Linked DNA regions of Homo sapiens: region 1 is linked to region 2. Evidence: fine-mapped expression QTL. Tissue or cell type: sigmoid colon. Region 2 holds a variant in brackets; the other region holds the start of a gene. All regions are shown on one strand. Distances are between the middles of the regions.

Evidence for each region. PIP is the estimated chance that this variant, and not a neighbour inherited with it, causes the effect.
Region 1: it holds the start of TMEM175, and the variant in region 2 is fine-mapped to the expression of TMEM175 in sigmoid colon (GTEx, PIP 0.98).

What each region holds. Positions count from the first base shown.
Region 1 is chr4:928,180-937,280 of GRCh38, reverse strand. It overlaps TMEM175 (transmembrane protein 175), which reads right to left and starts at 4,821. Exons shown (of 11, transcript NM_032326.4): 1 at 4,741-4,821. GAK (cyclin G associated kinase) reads left to right here and starts at 4,965. Exons shown (of 28, transcript NM_005255.4): 1 at 4,965-5,238. The coding sequence starts at 5,094. RefSeq lists an enhancer at 4,380-4,699 and a silencer at 4,860-5,179.
Region 2 is chr4:1,589,505-1,600,090 of GRCh38, reverse strand. It overlaps a transcript of FAM53A not described here. Among named protein-coding and RNA genes, the nearest start is that of FAM53A, 90 kb to the left of the region's middle. RefSeq lists enhancers at 552-1,378, 5,466-5,981. The variant C/T (reference allele first, on the strand shown) is at 4,774.

The sequences.
Region 1 (9,101 bases), 660 kb after region 2:
AGTCTGGAGTCTTCTTTAAGGGAAGATTTGTCAACTATAAATTCAATGCTTTAATAGACATAGAGCTATTTAGGTTATCTATTCCCTTCTTAAAAAATTTACATTTTTAATTTTTATAGGTATATAGTAGGTGTATATATTCATGGGGTACATGTTCTGATACAAGCATGCAATGTGTAATAATCATATCATGAAGAATGGGGTATCCATCCCCTCAAAAAAAAAAGATGGTTAGATAACACAAAGTATGTTGCAATGCCTTAATTGTATGCATGTCAGGGCCTCTTTCATCCTTTCATACAACACAATTTCTCTTTTTTTTTTTGAGACAGAGTCCTACTGTGTCGCTAGACTGGAGTGCCGTGGCTCAATCTCGGCTCACTGCAACCTCCGACTCTCTGGTTCAAGCGATTCTCCTGCCTCAGCCTCCCAAGTAGCTGGGATTTCAGGCACATGCCACCATGCGCAGCTAATTTTTGTATCTTTTTTAGTAGAGATGGGGTTTCACCATGTTGGCCAGGATGGTCTTGATCTCCTGACCTTGTGATCCACCTGCCTTGGCCTCCCAAAGTGCTGGGATTACAGGCGTGAGCCACCGCGCCGGGCCCAACACAATTTCTTCTTAAATGAGCTTAAGTGGTTTGTGCTTTCCAGGAATTTGTTCGTTTAGTGTAAGCTGCTGAATTTGTTGGCCTAAAGTCCTTAATAATAGTCCCCGATTATCCTTTCCGTAGTGATGTCATTTCTCATTCCTGATATTGGTAATTTGTGTCTTGCCTTTTTCTTGTTCAATCTGGCCAGAGATTTTTCAATTTTATTAATCTCAAAGAATCAGCTTTTGGTTTCCCTGATTTTCTCTATTGCTTTTGTTATCTATTTTTTTGAATTCCACTCTGATACTTATTATCTGCCTTCTTATATTCACTTTGGGTTTCATTTCCTCTTACTTTTCTAGTTTCCTTTTTTTTTTTTTTGTGACAGAGTCTCAGCTCACTGCAATCTCCACCTCCCGGGTTCAAGCAATTCTCTTGCCTCAGGCTCCCAAGTAGCCGGAACTACAGGCGTGCACAGGCATGCACTGCTACACCCAGCTAATTTTTGTATTTTTAGTAGAGATGGGGTTTCACCATGTTGGCCAGGGTGGTCTTAAACTTCCGACCTCAAGTGATCTGCCCACCTCAGCCTGCCAAAGTGAGCTACCGTGCCCAGCCAACTTTTCTAGTTTCATAAGGTGATTGCTGAGGTCACTGATTTGAGACTTAACATTTAATACTGTTTTAGCTGCATCCCACCAGTTTTAAATGCTGCATTTTCATTTTCATTCTGTTCAAAATACTTTCTAATTTCCTTTTTGATTTCTTCTTTGACCCATGAGTTATTTAAAAGTGAGTTGAAAAAATATACAAAAAACAAAAGTGAGTTATTCAGTTTCCAAATATTGAAAGGATTTTCCAATCTGTTACTGATTTCTACTTTAATATTCAATATCATTCTGGTCAGATAACATACTTGTTTAATAGAACAGAATATGATCAGGCTTAATGTTTTAATGCACTTGAAAAATTGTGTATTCTGCTGTTATTGTGGGGAGTGTTCCATAAACATTCATTAGGTCAAGTTGGCTGACAGTCATGTTCAAGTCGCCTATATCCTCAGTGATTTTCTGGGTATCTATCCTATCGTTTATTGAGAAAGAATATTCTCCAACTACAATTGTGATTTTTCTCTCTCCTTGCAGCTATTAGTTTATGCTTTGTGTATTTTAGAGCTTTGTTATTAGGTGCATAAATGTTTAGGATTATCAAGTCTTTTCGATGAATTCACCCCTTCTTCATTACAAAATGATCCTCTTAATCTCTTGCAATACTCTTTGCTATGAAATTTAGGAAATCAGTTATAGGGATTAAGACTATAACTTCAGTTTTGGATATATACATGTTTATACATGTAGCAGTATCTAAGAACAAACATCTGAGAGTTCAGATGAGATATGGAGATAGATATTTGGGTTAAGATGGTGTTACTATAGCATCTACTTCAATGCCAATAAATAAAGGTGCTCCAGAAATATTCGTAAGATAAGTAGTCTGACTCTGGTTTCCAAAGTGATTACAAGGTTTAGAAATGTCCAGCTGATCCCAGGTCATGCCAGTATAAGTTCATGGCCTCCAGATGAGTGCTTAAACGCTCTCATGCTTTCCAGTGAGTTATTTGCTAGGTTTCTCATAATAGCTATTTTAGATCTTTTTGACACTGCTTAAATCTTGGGTTTCCTACTTCCCCTCTCACTTTCAGTTGATGTTTTTCTTTCCTCATTCACAATGAAAACAGAAGTCATTAGAGAATTCCTTCACCTTCATTCCAATAAATACATAAGGTCACCTACAACTGCAGCCCATTTTTCTTCCTGAGTGTTTTTCCTATGTCCAAAGCAAATATCTCTACCTATGCTCTTGATGTCATTCCCCTCCTATGTTCTAAGAGATAGAAGATATCTCATTAAGATAGAATTATCTTATTATTCCTCTTTTTTCTGTACCAGCAAACCTTCTCTCCCTTCCATCCGCTTTAGGCTGCTCAAGAATCTCTCATCTTAAAACATCTCAATACTACATCACCCTTGTAGCTCCCTGGAGCTAAGGGTGCCGAATTTGTTGGCCTGAAGTTGTTCATATTCTCTTCCACAGACAAACATTTTGAGTTATCTCCACTTGCCATCTCTACCTCATCATCTCTTCATCCCTCTACGGTAATATGTAGCTTCCACCTCATTACTCCAATGAAGCTATTCTTGGTGAGGTCACCAATGATCCCTTGTGAATAAATCCAACACATATCTTCCATTTCTTTTTCTACTTGACTTTTAAGTGGCATTCGACACTCTTAGCTGCACTCTCTGCCCCGAACATCCTCGTTCCTTGGCTCTGTTACGACACTCTCTTGGTTTTCTTCCTCCTTCACTGACTGCTCTTTCTCCACAAACTGTCTATTCTCTGAAGATTCTAACCTCTTTATGTCTAGTACACCATCTCTGTTGGTCCTCTCTTCAGCTCCTAGAGCCAACTGCCACCTCTATGCTGAGGATGCCCAGATATCTGTCTCTAGCAGGGATTCTTTCCTGAGCTCTCTATCCTTCTATTCCACAGTCGACCAGACAAACGCACTGGCTGGAAAAGCCATGACTTGCGTTGAATTGCAGTTGTATCACTTGTTGGCCCTGGCCGAATAATGGCATTGTTGAGCATATTTTCTCATCCCAAAATAAAGGGGGTTAATTATACTGTGCTTTCTTCACAAAGATGTTTTCACTACAATGAACTATTACAGAAAAGGGTGTTGTAAGCAATAAATCAGTGCCTAAACTAAGCTATTGCTACTGTTATTTTTGTTATATATATTTTTAAAGATGTCATTTGGCTTCATGCAATACTTCATTCCATAACATAGATAAGTGTTCCAACGAGCTGAGGCTATTATCTTTTAATGATAAAGATAACAGATGTTAGCTTCTGGGACGGCTAAGAGGCTGATGTGAGCTTTAGAATCCATTTTTGAGTTGGAGAACAAATAACTCTGTTGAAGGGGTTGCAACCTTAAATGACTATAGGAACCAGGCAGGTAACATACATGAGCCCATCTGGTCAGGCAAATGACTGTGTCTTACCTCAAGGGACCACTCTAGGTAATTGGTAACACACATCATTTTGGGTCCAATATTGACAGGTTTGATTTTTCCACAGAAGCTGGAAAACTAGGTTTTTAACATTTAGGCCTTTCAATTATTATTATTATTATTATTTATTTTTTGAGGCGGAGTCTCAGGCTAGGGTACAGTGGCGCCCGCCTCCCGGGTTCAAGCGATTCTCCTGCCTCAGCCTCCCGAGTAGCTGGGATTACAGGCACCCGCCACCACGCTCGGCTAATTTTTGTATTTTTAGTAGAGACGGGGTTTCACCATGTTGACCAGGCTGGTCTGGAACTCCTGACCTCAGGTGATCCGCCTGCCTCGGCCTCCCAAAGCACTGGGATTACAGGTGTAAGCCACCGCGCCTGGCATCAGTCTTTAAATGATAGCAACTAATTCACCTCCTGCTACCCACTCCCAACCCCCAAATACTGTGTGGGCCAAAAACTAAAAATGCATTGTCTGTGAGCCATTTCCTTATTATCCTATAAGGAAAGTCACCATTTCATCTCCAAATAGTTGGGCATTACGAACCCTTCCAAGTGGTTCATGAGGATTTGCTTTTGCCTTGGAAAATGTCAGGGTGAGAACGAACCTTGAGGGTCACAGGGCAGTCTCTGCAGTGTTGTGGTTGCCCAGGACGAAGGTTTTTCTAGCCCACGGCTCCCACTACTGGTCACTGCCCCAGGCCAGACCCTGGCCCTCTCCTCGGAAGACAGAGCAATGCAGCAGCGTTTCCCCTGCAAACTGCCTGCCTGGCTGCTGGGAGGGGGCTGCCAACCTTACTCACTAAGCGTCACAGGAAACTCCGACCTCCATGAGACGAAAACCAAGTATTTACTGAAAGCTTAACGCACGCTAACTCCTTGCTCCTTAGCCAACTGAGAGAAAAATTCGCGAACCCATTCGCAAACGCGGCGCTAACAGCAAACGGGAGGCTGACTCCACCCAGAGGATGGCGAAGCGCTTAAACCGGAGACACCTGAGAAGGAGCCTCCCACAAAACAGACCATGTGGGGAACGGTACCGGGAGCTGGACTGGGGCGCTGAACTACCTGGGCGGGAATCGCCTCGGCGACTGTTCCGCGCGCCTCCGCTTGAGTCAGCCCGGCCGGGAGCTTGACAGCCGGAAGTTCATCGCAAGCCCGGCGACGCCGCGCACGCGCTGTCTCCGTCAGACCTCCGCGCCTGCGCGCGCAGCCAGGAAGTGAGGCCGCGGCGGAGGGGACGGGGCTAGGCCGGGTCGCCGCCTGACGCGACGCGTCCTCACGGGCGCCTACGTCACGGCGTCGAGGCGGAAGATGGTGCACCTCCGGGCCGGCGGTTGCTGAGCTGACCCGGACGGCGAGGGAGCGGGAGCCCGAGCCCGACCACTCCGGCTGCCGCGGGGTGCGGCGCAGCCACCGCCATGTCGCTGCTGCAGTCGGCGCTCGACTTCTTGGCGGGTCCAGGCTCCCTGGGCGGTGCTTCCGGCCGCGACCAGAGTGACTTCGTGGGGCAGACGGTGGAACTGGGCGAGCTGCGGCTGCGGGTGCGGCGGGTCCTGGCCGAAGGTGAGGCCCCGGGTCGGCAGCGCGGGTGCGGCCGCGGAGTGTTGTCTCCGGGACGCTGGGGGCAGCGTCAGCCCGGAGTGGAAGGGCGTGGGTTAGGGCTGGGGAGGGTCCCAGCGGGATCGTGGGTCAGGGTCGGCCAGGGGAGGGTCTCTGCCGAGGGCGTGGGTCAGGGCCAGGCGAAGGTCATAGCGCGGGCGTAGGTGAGTGCCTGCTGGCGGTGATTGCGGAGGGCGAGGCTGGGACCGGGTCGGGGTACTTTCTTGTCATAAGAGTAGGGTCAAGTCGGAGCAAGGCCTGGGGCTTGGGGAACCCCCTCAGGGTGGGTGGGGGAAGATGTTACGGTGAGGTGGGGGATGGTGGCAGGCAGGGAGCTTGGGTGGGGACCCACAGCGGAGACTGAGGGACGGTGCCTAGAAGGCCGACAGCTGGAGTCAGGAGGTGAGCGGTGCAGGAGGTGGGTTTAAGCCTTGGCCTTTTGCCGGACATCTGGGGTTATTGAGCAGGCAGGGACAGGACTGGACTTTGGAGGTTAGGGCTGGTTCTTCTACAGTCCAGGGAACTTGAGAGTTGGTGGGTGCACACGTGTTGCAGGTAGTTGCGGTTGTAGCCTGGGGGGTGGGGGGGTTGGCCGAGGGTAGACTGGGCTGTGTCTCGTGATCCCCCTTCGTCTTTCAACACCTCAGTGTTTCTCTTCCCGGTGAACATCTACTCGTGTGATTCCGTGTGTAGTACAGGAAGCAGAGCCAGTGGTTGTGACCTATATAGAACTTGCAGAGTGGACAGGTCACTCGGCTTAAGTCCTCTTGAGTCAGTCTTGAGTCAGTTTTGTCTCTGCATGCTATTTCTAGCTCCCTGGATGTCCTCTCCGTTCACACGGAATCGATCACCAGTGCCAGTGGGTCCCATTCTCTCTTGTGGATTTTCCTTACATTTTTTGTCCAGTGGTGCCTGGAGGTGTGTCATATTTCACTGGCTGTGAAGTTTATGGGCTAAACACAGTTGACTTGGGTGCGGAAGCGTAACTCTATTCTGCTGTATTGGCACAGGGAGAGGGAGTGAAGCGACACAAAAGCCCTCACCCTCACCAGCTCCCTGGTACCTCTCAGGGCTGGAGGGTTAGCCTGTCCAGGTGCCTGCTCTGTGACCAGACAGGAGACTATCCCAGAATTCTGATTATCACAAAAGGCCTGCGGAGACATTTTGACTGTAGCATTATCACACACTTTGTCTCCATTGTGGTCAAAACCAAACAGATTTTGGGTATGATTTGGTCAGAAAGTCTAAGCTCTTCTTTCAGAAGTGGGGGCTGAAGTGTGATATTCTTTCACATCAGTTGGAAGATTTCTCTCAGATCAAATCATTTATTCTGAAAATACTAGGTGGTTATCTTCATTCTTTAAGAAGTTTATTGTGGACAGGACTTGCTTTCTGGAACTTCAGACTTGTGCTCAAGGGGTGGAGAGACAGAGGCAGCACAGGGACAGATCCTTAGGGGTGGTACAGACAGTGTGAGCTTTGGGAAGGGGCCAAGCAGAAGATGGCACGGATCTTGGTGGGAGGGATGGAGAATGCACCCTCACTGGGGCCCGGAGAGGAAGATTCGTATAAAGAAAGAAGCTTGTGGGTCACTTAGCACCCAGGAAGAAGAACAAGGAAATGTGGGCAGCTGCTGAGGTTGTGCAAAAGAACTTGTTTCCCTTTGCTATCTAGGCAAGTCAGGAGATAAAAATAACCAATGCAATTAGGAGCTGTAGATTTCCTCCTTGTAAACTTAATAGGTGGCCTGCAGCCTCCTAAGTACTTTGAAGCCTCTTTGAACTGAAACAGAGTGTGAAAGCTGAATTAAGTATTTTATATAAACATACTTAATTAAGTTTTGTCTGAACAGCAACCTTAGAACATAGGCTATGGGAGTTTAGGCTGTCTTGTGTAAACATGGTGATGGCTGGTAATCTGAACCCTTGAGTACAGATGTTTACACTTCCAGAATTTTTCAGGTTTCAGAATGGTCATTGCAGCATATAACCTGTATATCGTGGGATACTCCCAGAAGACTTGGGAAAGTATTCTGTAATTGAATACATTAATATTTCTGTAATTAAATGAATAAATATTCTCACTGTGGGATAATTAAAGTCTGTAATTAACCCCATATCAGTTCATGTCAGGTTTTATCCCAAATGAGGTTATTATGATAGACCAGGATTTGCTGTCAAGTGAGTTAGGAAAAAATGGTTTTCATAGCTTTTAGGAATTTGGACTTGTGGTGTGAATGGGTTTTTAGGTAGAACTGTGGAACCAGATAGCTTTCTAATTTCTTCAAATTTGTTCTGTCATCTTCCTTTTTTTTTTTTTAATTTAAGAGACGAGGTCTTGCTGTTACTCAGGATGGATTTGAACTGGGCTCTGGATCTTCCTGCCTCGGCCTCCCGAGTAGCTGGGCTTACAGGCATGTGCTGCTGCACCTAGCTAGTCTTCACTTTTTTAAAAGGCAGATTATCAGGAGCACCAACCATGTCAGAGATGCCCAGGGCAGGTGTATGCTGTGTGTTCTTTGTTTTGGGTTCTGCGTGCCGTTGCTTCTGAAGTGGAGCCTGTGGTGCCCTGACTGCAGGGAAATCCACCTTCCCTGTGTGGCTGACTTGAACTCGGGGTTACTGCTAGTGAGATAAATTGAGGCAGAAAAGAAAACGATGCCGCACAGCCGTCGTATGGTTTAAGCGTAACCCGCCTCGTGCGTTTGGTTGGGTGTTGTATGTAATTTGAGCCAGCCCGCAGCCCTTGTGTGCCATGCGCAGTGTTAGCTGAGTGGCTGGGCCCGCTCAGGAGCCTTGGGGGTCAAGCTCTGGCCTAAGGAATGGGGAGGGCACAGCCTACTCCCACCCCCAGGGCCACTTGTGTGTGGTCCTGACTCTCCACCCTTCTTCCTCCTTGACATGGCTTTTGGAGGCTTCCTCCCTTCACTTACTTAGAATGTTCTGGGCCGGGCGCAGTGGCTCACGCCTGTGATCCCAGCACTTTGGGAGGCCGAGGCGGGTGGATTACCTGAGATCGGGAGTTCGAGATCAGCCTGGGCAACACGGGGAAACCCGTCTCTACTAAAAATACAAAATTAGCCGGGTGTGGTGACACATGCCTGTAGTCCCAGCTACTCAGGAGGCTGAGGCAGGAGAATCGCTTGAACCTGGGAGGTGGAGGATGCGGTGAGCCAAGATCACGCCATTGCACTCCAGCCTGGGCAACAAGAGTAAATCTCCGTCTCACCAAAAAAAAAAGAAAAGAAAAAAGAATGTTCTGGACTGGGTGAGGGCACTGTGAATATTTGGTACTGACTGACAGTTGCAGAATCATGTGGTACAAGCAAGACTCTTGGTTGCAAGTTTCAGAAACCCTCCCAGGTGGGCTCAGTGGCAGGAAGGCCCCATGTCTCCAAGGTGGGCTCAGTGGCAGGGGAGGCCGCATGCTGGCCCCATGTGTCCTCCGCAGGGTACACTTGAGATCATTTTCTTTTATTGAAAAGAGTCTGGCTCTGTCGCCCATGTTGAGTGCAGTGGAGCGATCACGACTCACTGCAGCCTTGAACTCCTGGGCCTACGTGATCCCCCTGGCCTAGGCCTCCCAGAGTGCTGGGACGACAGGCATGAGATAATGTGCCCAGCCTTAGACTGATCTTAAAAGTAGACCGGGCCGGGCACGACGGCTCACGCCTGTAATCCCAGCACTTTGGGAGGCCGAGGTGGGCAGATCACCCGAAGTCAGGAGTTCGAAACCAGCCTGACCAACATGGCAAAACCCCATCTCTACTGAAAATACAAAAACTAGCTGGGCATGGTGGCGCGTGCCTGTAATCCCAGCTGCTCAGG
Region 2 (10,586 bases):
TTGCTCAGTGGTCCCTGCATTAGGGAAGTGGCCTGTGCCCCAACCATAGCACCCAGTGAAAAGTGGGAGGGGCCTCGCCTAGGTGGGAGAGGGGGTCACACGTGGTGGGGCCTGCATCAGGGGAAGGGAGAGGGAGAGGAGGAGGGGGAGGAGAGGAAATAGGAGGGGGAGGGGCGGCAGTACCCCAAGGGACCGCCACAGCGCCATGCAGCCCACACCCTCTGCCCTGCCGTTTTCTTTCCTGGGAGCCAACACTCAGCGCCACTGGCCCCACTGGGACTCGGAGTGCCTGTGCAGGTGTCTGGGGTGAGTATGCGTGTGGCTGGCAGGTGGCGGGGTGTGTGGTGTCTGTGCACGTGTGTTTGACTAGTGTGGGTATGTATGTGTGTGTTGTGAGGGGGCGCAGCCTCCCAGAGGGCCAAGCGGGGTGGGCTGGGCTGGGCCAAGGCCCGCCTAGGCTCTTGCAGAGGTAGGGGAGGTGCTCTGGTCCCCCGGGCTGAGGGCAGTCCCCACCCTTGAAAATTGTGCTATTTGCACAATTCTTTCTCATGCATTCCACCTGTGCTGACGAGGCCGCACGCCTCCCCAGCCTCCTGTCCAGTGCTGCTCCCGTGGCTGTGGGGCCTGGGGCCACTCATTTGGCCTCTGTGCCTTGTCTCCTTGTCTGCGAAACACTCGAGATGTCCCTCAGGTCCAGGTGCCATGCCCTGCCCCCGATGGGCTCCTGGCTGGCCCGAGTCCCACTGTGCTTCTGCTCCGGCCAAGTACCGGGCGGAGTTGTTGGAGCTGACGGCCCTGAGCTCCGGCACCCTGGATCCCCTGGCCTCGGTGAAGTACCAGGCAGGGTTGGAGCTGACGGCCCTGCGCTCCGGCACCCTGGATCCCCTGGCCTCGGCGAAGTCCCGGGCGGGGTTGGAGCCGACGGCCCTGAGCTCCAGCACCCTGGATCCCCTGGCCTCGGTGAAGTACCAGGCGGGGTTGGAGCCGACGGCCCTGCGCTCCGGCACCCTGGATCCCCTGGCCTCGGTGACGAAGGGTCTGCCAGGCCAGGAGGGAAGCGGGCCGGGGAAGGAACGCGGTGCTGCACCCGCACGCACCCCTGCGCACGCTACAGAGAGGAGAGAGAAAGATAACTGATGGGTAGTATTTTAAGGCATATTAACCCAATTACAAGTATATTTTTACAATCATGACTCCAACATTTATCACGCAGCATTTATTAGCCCCGGAGCTGGGCTGTGCCACGTGAAGGCTGTGAAACAGCAGCATTTCATTACGCTCCGCCCGCCGGGCTCCATCCTGCGGCTCTTAAACCGCATGATTTTATCAAAATCTTCGGAAATTGAAGCAATCACTAAAAGGTGTCGGGGAATTAAAATGTCCTGTCTCAGTGTAAGAGATACACTTCTCGTAACATATATCAGTGGCTCTTTTTTTTTAAAGACACATTACTATGCAGAGAAAAGGCATCAAACCGGGAGGGGGTGCGTTCCAGAAGGATCGGACGACAGCAATTCTTCACGCTTAAAAATCGTCTCCTGAGGGACGTGCTGCCTGCAGAACTGCTTCTGTGGCCGCTCTGGGAGTGCCAACGTGGCTGTCTTACCCACTTCCTTTCTCAGCCTCATTGTTTGGGGATTGCGGCCCCCGTCAGCCTCTGCTTTGAGGAAACAGATCCAGGCAGCCCCTCAACCAGAGTGGGGGTCCTGGCTCCCGTCCGTGCCCCTCCGGGCCAAGGGCCTGGCGGAAGGCGCAGCGTTTGGAGTTGGCCCCACGTTTTTCCCGCACACTCCATGCAGCTGCGGCTGCAGGCCTCGGATCAGAGCAGGCAGTCCGCTGTGCCTTCCCCACCGCCCAGGGCCTCGGTGGAGCTGTTTTTCTCCCAGAATCTTCTCCCACTTACCTCCCCACAGCCGGAGAAGGGGCAAGAAGGGGCTGGGCCCCTAGGGGCTCACAAAGGGGGTACGTAGGCAGCAGCAGTGGCCTTCGGCTGGGCCTGGGGATGCAGCTTGGCTCTCAAAGGGCACCTTCCAGGTGTTTCTTTTAGAACAGTCCTGGGGTTCCCATGAGGTCATTCCGCCAAGGTCCTCAGTTCTTTTTGGAGCCTCGCTCTGTTGCCGAGGCTGGAGTGCAGTGGTGCGATCTCAGCTCACTGCAACCTCTGCTTCTCAGGTTCGAGCGATTCTCCTGCGTCAGCCTCCTGAGTAGCTGGGATTACAGGCGCCCGCCACCACATCCGGCGAATTTTTGTACTTTTAGTAGAGATGGCGTTTCACCATGGTGGCCAGGCAGGTCTCGAACTCCTGACCTCATGTGATCTGCCTGCTTAGGCCTCCCAAAGTTCTGAGATTACAGGCGTGAGCCACCGCGCCCGGCTGGTCCTCAGTTCTTTGGGACGATGGGCTGTACCACCCAGGTGCTCCCTGCAGCCACATAGGGCTGGATGGGGCAGGAGGCACTGTTGGGGGGCCCCGGAGGGTTTGACTTCCCCTCTCAGGAACTTGGGACTGTTTAGGGACCCACACTGTGCTGGGTCAGTTCTGAGGGAGGGGCTGGGGGTCTGGAGCAGGCAGGGGGCACACCTGTGTGGGGTGTGTGGCTCTCCAGGGCCCTGGGCCCAGCAGCATGGTTCCTGGGCTCCTGCCTGGCCCCGAGGAAGAACCTGGTCCCCCAGTGCGTGTTTGCTGTGGGGTCTGAGTTGGGGGTAGACGTGGGGGCACGGGGCAGTCCTCAGGGCTCCCCTCACCTCAAGCTGTGTCGGGCCGGTGGGGTTCTGCTGGGTTTGAGTTTAGGATGGGCAGTGGTGGGGGGAGGAGCAGAGGCAGGGGAGTGAGGGGACCCTCGAGGGGGACCCCTGATAGAGAGCCAGGCGGCTGAGGGCCCTGCCGATGTCTGGCTGGAGCCCAGGGGTGCCCGGTGTCTGTGTTCTCCAGATGCCCTTGGTGTCTGGGGAGCCCAGGCCTGTGGGAAGAGGCTGGAGTCCCAGTGAGGGAAAAGAAGGCCCTGCCCCACTGGATCCAGAGATGCCAGAGGAGCTGCCTGTCCCCTCTCGGAGCCTTGGTGGCCTGGACGTTGAAGTAGGGGAGATGCGATGCTGGAGGGAGGCCCCGAGGAGGGTGCGGAGCTGCCCAGGGCGAGCCCCCGGGGGCCTTTCCCACCTGCCAGGGGCTGTCTCCCTCTCCTCCGTTTCTCCCTCTGTCTCTCTCTCCCACTGTCTCTGTCTCTCCCCACTCCGTCTCTGTCTCTTCCCCATCTCTGTCTCTCCCCTTGTCTCTGTCTCTCCCCTTGTCTCTGTCTCTGTCTCTCTCTCTCTCTGTCTTTCCCCCTTTTAAAGGAAGTTTCATGGGAGAAGTACAGTTGGGAATCTGGAAGCAACCCGCATGTACCGTGTGGCACGGCCTCGGTGGAGGCCACAGCAGCCCGCGGCGGGCGGACACCGTGTGAGTGAAAGAGCCAGTCCCTGAAGGTGCCCTTCCATCTGGTCCCTGTAGAGGGCATGCCTGCAGTGACACAGCTGTGGAAATGGAGGGCAGATGAGTGGTGTCCGGTTCGGGTGGTGTGGTGGGCAGTGGAGGGCCAGGAGGGTCCTTGAGGTGGGAACAGCGCCCACATCTGGACGGTGTAGCCAGCGTTGGGCGGTGACACTGGCCACAGCTTGGCAAGAGGGTACCTTTGGGGAAGGTGGGTGGGGGCGCACTGGATCTCTTTGTGTTGTTTCTCATAACTGTATGTGAAACTACAATTTTCTCAAAGTAAAAAGTTTAATTGAAAACAATACGTGGCTATAATAAAAAATCCGGACAGCATGGAATTATGTAGAGGGGACCTGCCAGCCCAGCGTCCCTCAGCCTGGCCCTGTGCTGCGAGGATGTGAGTCAGAACTCAGCCCCCACCAGACCATGCATGGTCCCTGGAGGTGGCCTGGTGATTCTGTGGGTGTGGCCTGGTAGTGGCCTTGGAGCCAACCCTCCCCTCGTCCCTCTGTCTCTGTGTGCACTTTTTGCCCAGCGCAGGAGCAGGGACCCTCATGGGCCACATCAGCAGGGAGAGGCAGCAGAGGCTGGACGGCCACTCTTGTGGCCCCACGTCTCAAGATGGTGGTGCTGGTCCCCATTGAGCTCAGCCGTGCCTTGGGCAGACAGTGACCAGGGGTCACACCCGGTCCTGTGGACCATCACTGAGCACCTGCACCACAGAGAGGATCAGACTGGCCTCTGGGGTGGGACTCTCCTCTGACAGCACAAGAGAGGAAGAGACAAAGGGCCCCAGTAGACCACAGATGGGCCTACCTGAGGCCTCTCAACACATCAGAGCTGGTGCCTGGACTGAGTTGCAATTCTGCTGCTTCCTCTCTGCCCGGCTGGACTGGGGACCGGGCCTGGCTCCTGGGAGCTGTGTGCTGGCGCTTCCCGCGGTGCTGGGTAAGCTCCAAGTGTCCTGCCAGGCTTTGCAGTGTCAGGAGGGGTCTGTGCACAGGACAAGGGCTGCTTGGTGCTGTTTTTTTGTCTGCCGTCTGTGCCACGATTTATACCAGTGGTGACTTCCCAGGGCTCCCACCAACCCCAGCCCCACCCCACCAGCCACGTAGTGTCAGTGGTTTCTGATGTGCCCAGCACCACCAAGCCTAGGGGTGGGGCAGCCCTGCTGTCCCCGGCCTGTGGTGGACCCCCAGCCTCTGCATGCCCCTTCTCAGCCTTCAATAGACAAAAGCCTGGGAGGGTCAGCAGGGCGCCAGGATGTGGGGAGCCTGTCCTGGCCACTGTCCAATGGCCA[C/T]GCAGGACCATGGCAGCGTCTGTACAAAGAGGAGCCGGTGGGGCTCCTGCTGCCCGCCTTCTTGCACCCCTGCTGCTGGGGCCCTGTGGCCGTCCAGAGCCTGGAGGTGGGCGGGGGTCCCTGTGGGCAGAGGGACCAGTTGTGCGTTTCTGTCCTTTCAGTGGCTGCGGCTTCCCTGTCCTCTGACTCCTGTGGGAGCTGGAATCTGTGCCTCCCCGTCCCTGGCATGCTGGCACTGGCTGGGTCCCATGGTGCTTTGGTTGGTCCCCGATGAGCAAGCTGTGTCTCCATCCTGTGGGGGGATGGGGTGGCAGATGGCCCAGTGGGCCTGTGCACGGCTTTGCCTGGGGCCGGCAGTCTGCAGAAGGAACAGACTTCCCCCTCCACACCCGAGAGCTCCTTCCTGGCGGCAATGTATATTATGAAGGCAATGTGAACTTTGTAAAACTTAAGCACCTTACACATTTTTTTTTAAGAGACAGGGTCTTGCTCTGTTGCCCAGGCTGAAGTGCAGTGGCACCATCACGGCTCACTGCAGCCTCCAACTCCTACACTCAAGTGATCCTCCTGTCTCAGCCTCCTGAGTAGCTGGGACTACATGTGTGGAGCCACCACACCCGGCTAACTTTTGCATTTTTGCAGAAATGGAGTCTCCCTATGTTGCCCAGGCTGTTCTCCAACTCCCAACCCCAAGCAATCTGCCTGCCTTGGTCTCCCAAAGTGCTGGGATTACAGGCGTAAGCCACTGCACCTGGCCTAAAACTATTAAAGCATAGATCCACATTACCAGATTTTTGAAAAGAAGATAGAGAAGAGAACCCAAAATAATCATGATGACAGTAATACCCCCACCGTGGGGGGTGCCTTTTGTGCCTGCTTGTATACCCCGGGGGGCAGTGCCTCTATCATCCTTTTTTCATGAGGGGAAACTGAGGCTGGGGATTGTTAGATCCTGCCCAGGGTCCCCCCACAAGGAGAAGGGGACACAGGCTGGGGCAGGTGCTGGGTCCCTCCCCTTCTTCCACCTCCAGGAAGTCTTCCAGGCTGAGCCCTGACCTGGTGACCTGTGAATCGGTTTATCTGTCCGTCCTGCCTCCTGCTATGTGGGGCCGCTGGAGGCGGGGCCGCTGCTGGCTCCCAAGGGAAGGAGGGAATCTGCCCAGAAGCGGCTCAGGGACCTCGCAGAGGAGGCTCCGGCTTGGCTGCCCTGCTGGCAGCCTGGGGGGACCTGGGGCCCGCGGCGCCCCTCCCTGCAGCGGTCTCTGCTCACCCTTGGCCCCGGGAGCTGCCCCCAGCGGCCCCTGCTCTCCCTCGGGTCGGCCTTCCGCAACGCCGCCCTGCCCTAGACCGTATTTCGTGCTTGTTGGTGTCACAGACTTTGCCACGCAGGGTCAAGAGTTACCCTGCCCCGTCCTTTGTGTTCTAAATTTAATTGTTGCACTCCTTTTCTCCCTTAAAAAGATCAGTAAAAACTGTTAATTTGATCAATACTTAATTTTTTCACCCGAGCGCGCGTCTTCTGCTGGCCCGTGATAAGCTGGCGGCAGGGCAGAGGGACAAGTGAATTGTCAGGAATTTCTCCAGTCTCCCGCGGCCACTCCACCACTTAGAGCCGTGTAATTTATACCCCGGCAGCCGCTCTGCAATTACCCTGTCTATTGCTGTCGACAGTATCGCGCTATCTTTTAAATAGATCCGGCCTGGCTGGTCCAGACGAGCGTCCAGGACAAATGACGCCATCCCTCATCCCGCAAGCCCTAAAGAGATAAGTCCCTTAAAGAGGGGACCATTTATCAGCTGATACAAGCTGGATACTTACAAGCCCACTTCTTTGTTTGGGCTCTTTTCAGATTTCCAAAGCTATTGATCTACCGAGGGGGGAGCCGGGTTGGGGCGTGGGGCGCGGGGCGACTGTCAGGGGCGGCCCTGGGCCTGAGCTCACCCTACTCGGAGGGGCCCTGGCGTGGCTCCGGGCCGCGGTCCAGCCTCCCCTGGCCTGGGCTGAGCGCACCTGCCGCGCCGGCTTCCCTCCTGCGGGCGCGCGGGGACGTGGGTGCCTCTGCTGACTCCAAACGTCTGGGTTGCAGACCAGGCGCCTGGGCCAAGCCCTGGACCCGCGAGGCCGGTGTCGGGAAGGCTCAGATGCCCCCGGCCCCCGACCCAGGACCTGGTGCCTCTCTGGCCGCCACCGGCTCCCGCACAGGACGCCTGTGTCCCCGCCGGCGGAGAAAGCCCGACCCTCTGCTGCGCCCGCTCGTGCTCCGCATGGGCCCTCGGCCCTGGGCACTGGGGAGAAAGTGACCCAGCTGGGCTGGGATGGGGCAGCAGCTGCCCGAATCAGGGCCGGTTCCGTTGCCATAGGCTAGCCGGGCAGGGTGTGAGCGGCCCCGGGCCCCGCAGCCAGGACCTCGGCCATGTGCCCTGCAGACGCCCCTCCTGCGGGGCCCGTGTCTGGGGGGCTCCAGGCGTGTGCGGGTGGGACGTGGTGCCCGGCGCCCACTCAGGCGCCCCCGCGGCCGCCTCTCCTCCCTGTGGGCAGCGATGGCAGGGGCTGCCTGGGCTCTGCGGCGAACTCTGTTCCCTCCTGCTCCTTCCACCCAGGCCTCAATCACCTCCTTCCTTCCATGCTGTGAAGATCCTGCCCTCCCATCCCCAGGCTTCCAGGCTCTCCAGTGTCACGGCCCTGGGCTCACCCTGGCTTGGCCCAGGAGAGGGGCTGGGCAGGGGGTGCAGAACCGCGTGTCGGGGGCCCCTGGGTGTGGCCGGCGCCCGGGAGCCCTAGGGCCCCTCTCCTGCCCCTGTTTTCCCCCAGGAAGGACCGCAGCGCCCCCCAGCCTCCGGGATCCTGCCCCCTGGCCCCCTCGGCCTTGCTCAGGAATCCTGGGCTTGGGCCCTGCCCCTCCGGGACTTTGGGGGTAATCTGTGTGGTCTCGGCCTCGCGCCCTCCAGGCCTGCGCGCTCTGACGCTGCCTCCCGGAGCCCTCGCTCCGCCCACGGAGACTGATGGGGCCGCGTGTGGACGTGGCTGGTACGCGCCGTGCACAGCCGGTCATCTGTTTGGTCTTAATTTAGAAAACCTTCACGAGATTATTACGTGGCATTTTTTTTTCCCTGGGGTGTTTGATGGTATCAGGTGGGTTCAGAGCTCAGCCTCTCCAGTTTATCTTCCTCAGAGAGCTGCATTAACACGTAGGCACAGCGGCCCGACAAACCCCACAGAACAAATAGAAACGATCTTAGCAGCGTCTCTCTTTAAAAATAGCATCCATTTATCATCCAGCCGTATGGTGCTGGGCTCAGCCTGTGGTCTGGGGTGACCGACTGCTTTGGGCTTAAATATCCACTCTCCCGTTTCACTGTATTTAAAGTCTTCTCTTTCTACCCTGCACCCAAGAAGGAGGCCCCCAAAACTTGTGTCAGCAGCCAGAAAGGGGTGGGCAGCTGGCCTTCGGGGTGGAGCTTCCCAATTTGTAAAGGAAGGAGGAGCCCTGGAGGGTGACCTCCTGCGGCCCTCTGGGGAGTCCCTCAGCTCAGGGTCTCTGGGTTTCCTTCTGCTGCTAAGATCCCTCTCTGGGTCATGCTTTCCCTCCAGGGACTCCCAGGCCCCTGGATGGATCCCAAACTCACACCCAGAAGGAGCTGAAAGTAGGGTAGGGCCTCAGGCCAGACCATGTGCTCAGAAGGAACCAGGACCTACCTATTCCTTTGTCCACTCACAATAACATGAACTAGGGTATTTGATGTGCAGGTGGGCCTTGTGTGGGGTGTTGCAGTTGCTGTGGGAAACAAGACTGACTGCCACCCCATCCTGGCAGAGCTTACCATGCCATGGCCAACACTCTCTGTAGGAATGTCATGGGGTACATGTGCATGCGCATTCTCTCTCCTTCATTCCTGGCAAGTACAGGGGTGGCTGGCTTCTTTAGGTGCATCACAGGTCCCGGAGTGCAGAGTCCACAGTGTGTCCAGAGGGGGGCCAGCCTGCAGAAATAAACCCTAATGCAACAGTGAGTACAATAAATGTAAATGAGTTAGACTCAATGATCTGAAAGTAGAGACTCACAGGTTGAACGAAAAACAAACTGCTGCTGTATGCTCCTTAGAGAAGACACATTTTAAAGGAGAAAGGGCACAGAAAGATTGAAAATCAAGGGATGGAAAAGAGATACACCAGGCAAATATGTACACCCAAAGCAATGTGGGATAGCAATTCTAATGTCAGACAAAATAGAAATAAGGCCAAAAAATCACAAAAGACAAAGAAGAATATTAGGGACTAGTTCAAAAGAACAACAGACCAAGAACATAGAATGATTATATATATATATATATATATATATATATATATATATATATATATATGCATTAAATAATATAGTCTTAGAACATATAAAACTACAACTGAGAATATTACCAGGAGAAATATATGACTAAACTGTGTTATTTAGAATTTTCGACAAATTCCTCTTATAAAACAATAGATTAAATATACAAAAGTAAGTCTATTTAATTTGAATGGCATAATAAATTAATTGAATTACCTCTATTATCTATCAGTTTACACATCTCATGGAGAATACAGATTTCTTTTGTGCACACTTATTATTCACAAAAACAGGCCATGTGCTAGGCTACTGTATGGTCACCTTCAGAGGCAACCTACCCAAAATTTGTTTCAAATATTGGGAACGGATGGCTTCACACATACACACCAACAGGGCTTGAAATGGTTTGGATTGTTTGCATAACTGAGGTCTCTGAGGAGAGCAGGGCACGCCTCCCAAGCAGGTCAAGAATGGCTTGAGAGAGCAAGGAATGGAAAGGTTTTTATTGTGGTTCAGGGCTGGACCTGGGTGAGAGTTTTCATGTGCAGGCAGGGCCTTCTGTGGTTTGAATTCCCCACCAGCATCAAATGAGGGAGCACCCGGGCTTTCTTATCAGCTTGTCCAGATGTGGGGCACAGGAGAAAAGGGAGGGACACTTAAAAGCTGTTGGCAGCCAGACATCAAAAAATGGAGTCGGGCTGCTTATTTCAGCCACAAAAGAAAATGTGATAAATTTCAAAGAATTGGCATAATAAAGACTGTATCCTTTCACTATAATGCAATACAATAAATAAAAGAATTGTAAAAAAAAGGAAAGTCCAGATATCTGGGAAGAAAAATCATAAGTACTGAATACCCCTGGTTAAGGGAAAAATCATAAAGAAATTATACAACATTTAAAGCTCTGTGTGTCAGGAGCTGTGAGACATACCCAAAGCAGTACCTAGAGAAAAAAAATTATGATTTTGAATAAACTTATCAGAATACAAACAAAAGTCAAAAATAAATGAGCAAAGCATTTAACTCAATAGGCTAGAAAAAGAACTAAAGATATAGCTAAGGAAACAAGATGTAAATAAAGAAAAAGCAGAAATCAGTGAAATAGAAAACATTTTTAACATTAAAAAGTCAGAGAAGATTTTCAAAGTTAAAACTGGACCTTGTAAATATAATAAGACAGGCAATACTGATGACAAAGGAGAGAAGAAGCAAAGTAAATATAGAATAAAAATGGAAAATAATGGCAAAAATAATGAAGGGAAAATTATGAATGACTATACACTAATATATTCAGAAAGCCCAAATAAAACGAATACATTTCTGTAAAAATATAAAGTGCCAAATTGACACCACAGTAAACAGAAAATGTAAAAGACTAATATCCATTAGCTATTGAAAATTGAAATGAGAAAAAGAAAGAAATTGAAATGGAAAACAAATAATTCCCCACTAAAAATCTTCAAGAAAGAGAAATTATTTCTCATGCAA